Linked DNA regions of Homo sapiens: region 1 is linked to region 2. The links come from fine-mapping of genetic effects on gene expression. A gene starts in region 2. The other region holds a variant in brackets. All regions are shown on one strand. Distances are from middle to middle. Region 1 overlaps RPA1 (replication protein A1). Region 2 holds the start of RPA1 (replication protein A1).

What was found.
Region 1: its variant is fine-mapped to the expression of RPA1 in whole blood (INTERVAL, PIP above 0.99).

What each region holds. Positions count from the first base shown.
Region 1 is chr17:1,898,856-1,903,242 of GRCh38, forward strand. It overlaps RPA1 (replication protein A1), which reads left to right. Exons shown (of 17, transcript NM_002945.5): 17 at 1-1,227. Among named protein-coding and RNA genes, the nearest start is that of RPA1, 71 kb to the left of the region's middle. The variant G/A (reference allele first, on the strand shown) is at 2,185.
Region 2 is chr17:1,828,249-1,832,635 of GRCh38, forward strand. It overlaps RPA1 (replication protein A1), which reads left to right and starts at 1,757. Exons shown (of 17, transcript NM_002945.5): 1 at 1,757-1,878. The coding sequence starts at 1,846. SMYD4 (SET and MYND domain containing 4) reads right to left here and starts at 1,654. Exons shown (of 11, transcript NM_052928.3): 1 at 1,478-1,654. RefSeq lists a silencer at 1,506-2,025 and an enhancer at 2,653-3,153.

The DNA of each region.
Region 1 (4,387 bases), 71 kb after region 2:
CGACGAGAAAATTACAGTCTTCAACCCTCTTCTGGATTGACAAATTGTGGCTGGGAAGTGGCGATCTAGCTTTCAGCCCAGTAACCAGTCTTTCATGCCTACTACTCCCAGCATTCCCTCCTCTCCCCACGTGTCTGTCCACACAGTGAAGAGGCCTGACCAGCCGTGGTACCAGGACAGGACGTGTCCAGGGAACGCTGACACCTGTCCTCGCGCCTTCTCAGTGGCCAGCGTGATGAAACCAGCACGTCTCCGTGGATGTGATTGGGAACCCAGGGGCAGTGCCAGGGGGAGGGCTCCCTCGAGGAGGCTGTTTCTAACAGATTTCCCCACTCAAAGATCAGATCACCAGCAGAGGAGCATCAGAAACTGGCTCCACTGTTGGGCTTTTCAGAGATTTTGGTCCCTGCGGGTTGCCTAAATAGATTCTGGCCCACAGTTTACCTCGAAAGGCTGTTGATGTTGTTCTGTTTCTCCTCTTTCACTTAGAGATCAATGTTGATTTTGCGTACACCATGACATCAGCGTTAGGCAATTAGGAGAAAAAAATCTAATCATTTCGCCTTTATTTCAAGTGGTTCTTGAATTCCCTCCAGTCTCATTGTGAAAGGGGCAGGGAAAAAAATAAAAGGGTAATAATCTGATTTCTGTCCATATTTCCAGTGTTTTATGCTTTCCATTAAAACCTTGCTAATCTCTCGCGTGCTGTTCCTTTTTTGAACTGCAGGGTCAAAAATGTTCCCCTCCCCCACTTCTGTTTCCTGAGTGGGCTGTCTTCAAAAAGTATAAATACTATTGATCGTGGTATTTAATACACTAATGAAACCCATGGTTATTGACTACATAATTAATATACTGTCCAAAAGTGAAGTTTGGCCGCCCAGTATGTAAAGGTTTATATTGACTCATGTTTCTTTGGCAATATGCCGCCCAAGGTTTTATTTATAGAGGATGAAACAGGTTGTTTGGTCTCCTTTTCTTCTTTTCACCTGTTAGAAGGCCACTATTCCCCTAGTAAACTGATTGTTTCCTTGTCTCAAAGGGAAGATTCCCCCCACTCCCCGGCCACCTTTTATGTGGTTTGTTAACTCTTAGTCTTATATCCACTCCGCTGGTAGAGTTCTGGCTTTTATAAACACCTTTGGAAGTCATCGGTTCCTCAAAAAGAGAGCATAGATGTTTAATTTTCACTTATTCAAAAAAACTGGTATTTTTGTTATTAAGACATTAAGTAAATGTTTAAGAAAAAAAAGGATAATTTGGACTATTGACTTTCTTATGCAAGTAATCATATTTGTTTGTTTGTTTGTTTATTTATTTTGAGACGGAGTCTTGCTCTGTCACCCAGGCTGGAGTGCAGTGGCACGATCTCAGCTCACTGCAACCTCCGCCTCCCAGGTTCAAGCGATTCTGCCTCAGCCTCCTGAGTAGCTGGGACTACAGGCATGTGCCACCATGCCTGGCTAATTTTCTGTATTTTTAGTAGAGACGGGGTTTCACCGTGTTAGCCAGGATGGTCTCGAACTCCTGACCTTGTGATCCACCTGCCTCGGCCTCCCAAAGTGCTGGGATTACAGGTGTGAGCCACCGCGCCCGGCCTCCATGTTTATTTTAGGAAAATAATCTACAGTTAAGAAAAACAAAATTGGCCTGGCACAGTGGCTCATGCCTATAATCCCAACACTTTGGGAGGCTGAGGCGGGCAAATCGCTTGAGCCAAGGAGTTCGAGACCAGCCTGGGTAACATAAGGAGACCCCCGTCCCTACAAAAAAATAAAAATTAGCTGGGCGTGGTGGCACACACCTGTAGTCCCAGCTACCTGGGAGGCTGAGGTGGGAGAATCACCTGAGCCGTGGGAGGTCAAGGCTGCAGTGAGCCATGATTGCACCACTGCACCCCAGCCTGGGCGACAGAGCGAGACCCTATCTCAAAAAAAGGGGGAGAAAGGGTGGGTGCGGTGGCTCTCCCTTGTAATCCCAGCACTTTGGGAGGCCAAGGCAGGTGGATCACCTGAGGTTAGGAGTTTGAGACTAGCCTGGCCAACATAGTGAAACCCCACCTCTACTAAAAATACAAAAATTAGCCAGGTGTGGTGGTGGGCTCCTGTAATCCCAGCTACTCGGGCAGCTGAGGCAGGAGAATCACTTGAACCTGGAAGGCAGAGGCTGCAGTGAGCTGAGATC[G/A]CACCACTGCACTCTAGCCTGGGCGACTGAGCGAGACTCCATCTCAAAAAGGCAAAAGAAAAATAAAATTACTTAGGATTTCACCAACCAGTAATAAACACTTGTGTAGCTGGCTACTTTTTTCTTCTTTTTTTTTTTTTTTGAGACAGAGTCTTGCTCTGTCGCCAGGCTGGAGTGCGGTGACACGATCTCAGCTCACTGCAACCTCCACCTCCCGGGTTCAAGCAATTCCCCTGCCTTGGCCTCCCAAGTAGCTGGGACTACAGGCATGTAGCTGGACTACAGCCTGGTAGTTGGGACTACAGGCATGTGCCACCGTACCCAGCTAATTTTTTGTATTTTTAGTACAGATGGGGTTTCACCATGTTAGCCAGGATGGTCTCGATCTCCTGACCTCGTGATCCGCCCTCCTCGGCCTCCCAAAGTGCTGGGATTACAGGTGTGAGCCACCGTGCCTGGCCCTGGCTAGTTTTTTCTATGTATCTATGTGTATAGAGTTTAAATTAAAAATGGTAGCATAGTAAGCATATCATTTTGTAATGATTTTCTCCTAGGATGGGCATCTTTATTTTGATAAAAATTGCATCAGAACCACCATTAGGCCAGGTGCAGTGGCTCACACCTATAATCCCACACTTTGGGAGGCCAAGGCAGGTGGATCACTTGTGATCAGGAGTTCAAGAGCAGCCTGGCCAACATGGTGAAACCACATCTCTACTAAAAACACAAAAATTAGCCGGGTGTGGTGGCTCACCCCTGTAATCCCAGCTGCCCGGGAGGCTGAAGCAAGAGAGTCCCTCCCCGTGAGGCAGAGGCTGCAGTGAGCCAAGATCACACCATGGCACTCCAGCCTGAGCGACTGAGGGAGACTCCATCTCAAAACAAAAAAATCACAAACATAATTAAAAGATTTACTAATCATTAATAGCTTTAGATAAATAATTTTAAGTGGTGTTTGGCTCTTTGGATGTGTTTTCAGCCAATTCACTCTTGCAGGATGCTTATACTTTTTCTAATTGTTATAAATTCAAGATTTCACGAGCAGAAGCGTTTATGCTTTGTGGCACTGACAATCCATGCCTTTTCTTGTTCTGTTAGGTTCTCTCATTGATTTTTCTTTGCCTAAGTCCAGGGATAACTCCTCTAACCCTGTGTACCACCAAGGGCTGGTAGGTAATTTGAGCAGGTCCTTCCTTGGAAGCAGGTAGATTAATGTAGGGAGGGGAGGGAAAAAGAAGGCTTTGGAGCCCTGGTTTCATCCTGCCTACTACACAGACGGGGGCTGTGCCTATGAAGAGGCGAAACTCTTGTTTCCCACCACCCTGGCAAAGAAGGCCTCTTGAGAATACATTTGACTTGCCTATAAATCAACCTGATTATCTAAAGCTATTAATGATTATTAAGTCTTGTAATTATATTTGTAATGATGGTTTTGAAAAGTCATTGAGAAAAGTATGTAGCCACTCGTCTTCATGGTTCCAGCCTGTCAGTATGTGACTTTATTTTTTGAGATGGAGTCTCTGTCGCCCAGGCTGGAGTGCAGTGGTGCGATCTCGGCTCACTGCAACCACCACCTCCTGGGTTTAAGTGATTCTCCTGCCTCAGCCTCTTGAGTAGCTGGGACTACTGCACGCCCAGCTGATTTTTTGGGGTCTTTTTGTTTGTTTGTTTGTTTGTTTTTTAGACGGAGTTTCACTCTTACCCAGGCTAGAGTGCAGTGGCACAATCTCGGCTCACTGCAACCTCTGCCTCCCAAGTTCAAGCAATCCTCCTGCCTCAGCCTCCCAAATAGCTGGGACTACAGGCGCCCGCCACCATGCCCAGCTTATTTTTTGTATTTTTAGTAGAGACGGGGTTTCACCGTGTTAGCCAGGATGGTCTCAATCTCCTGATCTCGTGATCTGCCCGCCTCTGCCTCCCAAAGTGCTGGGATTACAGGCGTGAGCCACCACGCCCAGCCTTAGTATGTGACTTTTTTTTTTTTTTTTTTTTTTTTTGAGATGGAGTTTCGCTCTTGTTGCCCAGGCTGGAGTGCAATGGCGTGATCTTGGCTCACTGCAAACTCTGCCTCCCAGGTTCAAGCAATTCTCCTGCCTCAGGCTCCCGAGTAGCTGGGATTTACAGGTATATGCCACCGCGCCCAGCTAATTTTCTATTTTTAGTAGAGACCATGTTGGTCAGGCTGGTCTCAAACTCTCGACCT
Region 2 (4,387 bases):
GCTGAGGCAAGAGAACTGCGTGAACTGGGGAGGCGGAGGTTGCAGTGAGCTGAGATCACGCCATTGCACTCCAGCCTGGGTGACAGAGCAAGACTCTGTCTCGGAAAAAAAAAAAAAAGGAAAATCAAGATTTCATTCAAGGAAGCCTGAAACAATAAAATCAATTCTTGTGGTCTTTTCCTCTAGTTTATATGCTAAGGAAGGATCTATATTTTCTCACAGCAATTCACTCAACATCCTTCCATTCAGAAATATTTACTGAAAGACTACTTTGTCACAGGCACCATGCAGGTGATGGTTATACAAAGACGAAGCAGACTAGATAGCTACCATCTGTGCTCTTAGATCCTCTTTTTTTTTTTTTTGTGAGGCAGAGTCTTGCTCTGTCACCCAGGCTGGAGTGCAGTGGCACCATCTCGGCTCACTGCACCCTCCGCCTCCCAGGTTCAAGCAATTCTCCTGCCTCAGCCTCCGAGTAGCTGGGATTACAGATGCGCGCAACTACGCCCGGCTAATTTTTGTATTTTTAGTAGAGACGGGGTTTCACCATGTTGGCCAGGCTGGTCTCGAACTCCTGACCTCAGATGATCCGCCAGCCTTGGCCTCCCAAAGCGCTGGGATTACAGGCGTGAGCCACCGCGCCCGGCCTGATCCCTCTCTAGTTTCTCTGAGACACATCCCAGATTTTTCTTTCTCACCCACCCCAGCAACTATTCATTTAACAAGGTATTTCCCTCTCTTACATAGTTCAGCGTTCTGATTAAGTCCTCACCATCTCGTCTGGCATTCTTCCTAGAGTGTTATAATTAATGTCCATGCCATTGGCACCACTCCCCACTTTCAATCCAGCCTCCAACACTGAGACAGAAGTCAGTGCTCTGCCCTTAAATTCATCAACGCTACTCCAAGCATACCAGGAAGCCCAGGACAAAACCATCCTTACTTGACCCTTGTCTGACTTTCTAATTCTCAGGTGTCACTTACTCCTCTGCATGCACCCTTGCATACTGAACAACTCATTGCTATCCCCGGCTTGCCAGGCTATTTCAACTCTCCAATGTTTTGGCATAGGCTACTCATGCTTTCCGGACCAACCCTACCCTGGCTTATGGAGTCCACCTGGAAAATTCCCACACGTTCTTCGACTCGGCTCAAATGGCACCTCCTCCGGGACGGCGTCCCTGATTTCCCAGCTGTGATTCCAACACCCTTGGGGCCTGTACCACGTCTACCTGGAGGTGGGGTTACTGACGGCATAAAGTGCCCCCACACACTGTCCTCTTCTCTAAGGACGGGGGCCGGGTCTGATTCCCTTTCGGAGACCCCCCACCCCCACCCCCCACCGCCACGGTGCCAAGCTCAGGGCTTGGAGGCGGGAAGTCAGCCCCGCGTTGCTGGACGAATCGGGTCACTACTGCGACTCTATTTAGCAGCGGAGGTCTCAAGGAACAGCTTTAACCTCCTCTGGGATACCAACCCGTGCACTCGCCAGAGACCGAGGCGAGAACGCCTCGAGAACCGCTCAGACGCGCCCGGAACTGCGCCCTGGTCTCCCTCCCAGCGCCCGCGCAGCTCCTGGCGCGCCCCTTGGCGCCCCGCTCCGCCCCGCACCGCGTCCGGCGTCCCGCGCCAGGCCTCGCTTGGGACCATGGGTGGGTCACGTGGGCCGCGCCTCGGCCAATGCGGCGGCTGCGTAGCGCCCGGGCCCGCCCCTGAGCCGCGCGCACGTCGGGGGCGGGAGCGGTGCGCGCAACTTCTCGGGCCAATAACTGCGCAGCGCGCGGGACCCGGGTGGGGAAGCTGGAGCTGTTGCGGGGTCCGCGGGGAAGTCTTGGCGGTGGAGCCATGGTCGGCCAACTGAGCGAGGGGGCCATTGCGGTGAGGAGGTGCCGGGGGCTGGGCCGGCGGTCCGGGGTGGCTGCGGCCCCGAGCCTCGCGGAGTAGAGAGGGGGAGGGGAGCCCGGGGCGACGGGGGATGAACGCGAGGGGAGGAGATGGCGGGGGGCGGTGGGGACCCGCCGGGCGTCCCTCTAGTGTCATCGCCCCCTCCTCAAAGCATTCTTTCGATCGTCTTTAAAACATGCTCACATTTTTCCTACGTAAGAACAAACTAAATAAACGCTTGCCTTTCTCTGCATCTTCCACCTGCGGACACTTTCTGTCTCTTCTCCTTTCCCCACCCACAGCCAAACTTCTTGTCTGGTTTCAGCCACTTCCTTTCCTCGCCTTTCATCAACTCTTTAACCCACTCCAGTCATCCCTTTGATCGCTGTAGAAAACCCTGGCTGAAGGTACCAGTGGCCTCCAAGTTGCTAAATCCAGCCCTTTTCCGTTTTCAGCTTACCTGAGTTCTCAGCAGCGTTTGCGTTTAAGCCCTGCTTGCTTCAGGTCACACCCTCTTCCTTGGTTTTTAGTGGCTCAGCTTGGCAGGTCTATCCCCGTCTTATTTGTAAGTCCCTCTTTGTAAATTTTTGTTGAATCAAGGCTCCCTCTAGGCCCTCTTGACTCCCGAGGCAATTTCTTTTTTTTTCTCCAGCCTGGGCGACACTCACTGTCGCCCAGGCTGGAGTGCAGAGGCGCGATCTCGGCTCACTGCAACCTCCGTCTCCCGGGTGCAAGTGAGTCTCCTGTCTCAGCCTCCCGAGTAGCTGGGACTACATGTGTGCGCCACCACACTCGGCTACTTTTTGTGTTTTTATTAGAGACTGGGTTTCATCATGTTGGCCAGGCTGATCTCGAACACCAGACCTCAAGTTATCCGCCCGCCTCGGCCTCCCAAAATGCTGGAATTACAGGCATGAACCACCGCGCCTGGCCCCAAGGCAATTCCATTGCCATCTATTAATATATGTCAGTTGCTCACAAATTTCTTTGTACAGAGCCACCTTTACTCTAAAAGACAAACTTCCGTCATCTGTCTGCTTATTCCATGCTTCAGAGGGTTTTAAGTTCAGTATACGTATCCCAAAGCAAATTCTTTATCTTTCTAAGTCTGGGCCTCTTGATCCCTATCTCCACGGATGGCACCATTATCTATTCAGTTCAGTGCTAACCAGAAATTGAGAAATCATTCCTCCTATATTGTCCATTACCTGGGCATCCAGTCCCTCACGAAGTGAAGTGTATTTTGCCTCTGCGTAGATCTATCAAGCCCACTGGCTTCTCTCCATCCATACTGGCACCGTCTTTTTTTTTGCCTGAGCTGCTGACTTCCACTCAGCATACGTTCCTGCCACCATTCCCATCCACAGCATACTCTCAGCCTACCTCTCCAGTCACCCCCACATTTTTTTTTAAATTTAGATTTCTGGTATATTCCATACTCCTACCTTCTTCCATGGGGCCTTTGAACTTTTTTTTTTTTTTTTGAGCTGGAATCTTGCTCTGTTGCCCAGGCTGGAGGGCAGTGGCGCGATCTCGGCTCACTGCAAGCTCTGCCTCCTGGGTTCACGCCATTCTCCTGTCTCAGCCTCCCGAATAGCTGGGACTACAGGTACCCGCCACCACGCCCGGCTAATTTTTTGTATTTTTTAGTAGAGACGGGGTTTCACCGTGTTAGCCAGGATGGTCTCGATCTCCTGACCTTGTGATTCGCCCGCCTCGGCCTCCCAAAGTGTTGGGGTTACAGGCGTGAGCCACTGTGCCCGGCCTTTTTTTTTTTTTTTTTTTTTTTTTTGAGGCAGAGTCTCACTCTTTCTCCCCATACCCCCCCACTACCGCCCCAGGCTGGAGTGCGGTGGCGCAATCTCGGCTCACTGCAACCTCTGCCTTCTGGGTTCAGGCAGTTCTCGTGCCTCTGCCTCCAGAGTAGCTGGGATTACAGGCATGTACCACCACACCTGCGTAATTTTTTGTATTTTTAGTAGACACGGGGGTTTCACCATGTTGCCCAGGCTGGTCTTGAACTCCCAACCTTAGGTGATCCACCCTCCTCGGCCTCCCAAAGTGCTGGGATTACAGAAGTGAGCCACCGCACCCGGCCCTGAACATTTTTTTCCCTCTGCCCACTGCCTGGGTGGTTCTTCACTCTTCCCCACACTGGCAAACACTATCTTCGTATCTCAGCTCATTTGTGACTTCCCTTACTAGGCTAAATCCCTTTGAGACCCCAATTCCTGTTCATTCACTTATTGAATTATTTATTTTTTTTCTTTTTGAGATGGAGTCTTGCTCTGTTGCCCAGGCTGGAGTGCAGTGGCACGATCTTGACTCACTGCAACCTCCGCCTCCTGGGTTCAAGCAATTCTCCTCCCTCAGCCTCCCAGGTAGCTGAGAATACAGGAGACTGCCATGATGCCCGGCTAATTTTTGTATTTTTAGTAGAGATGGGGTTTCACCATGTTGGCCAGGCTGGTCTCGAACTCCTGACCTCAAGCAATCCACCTGC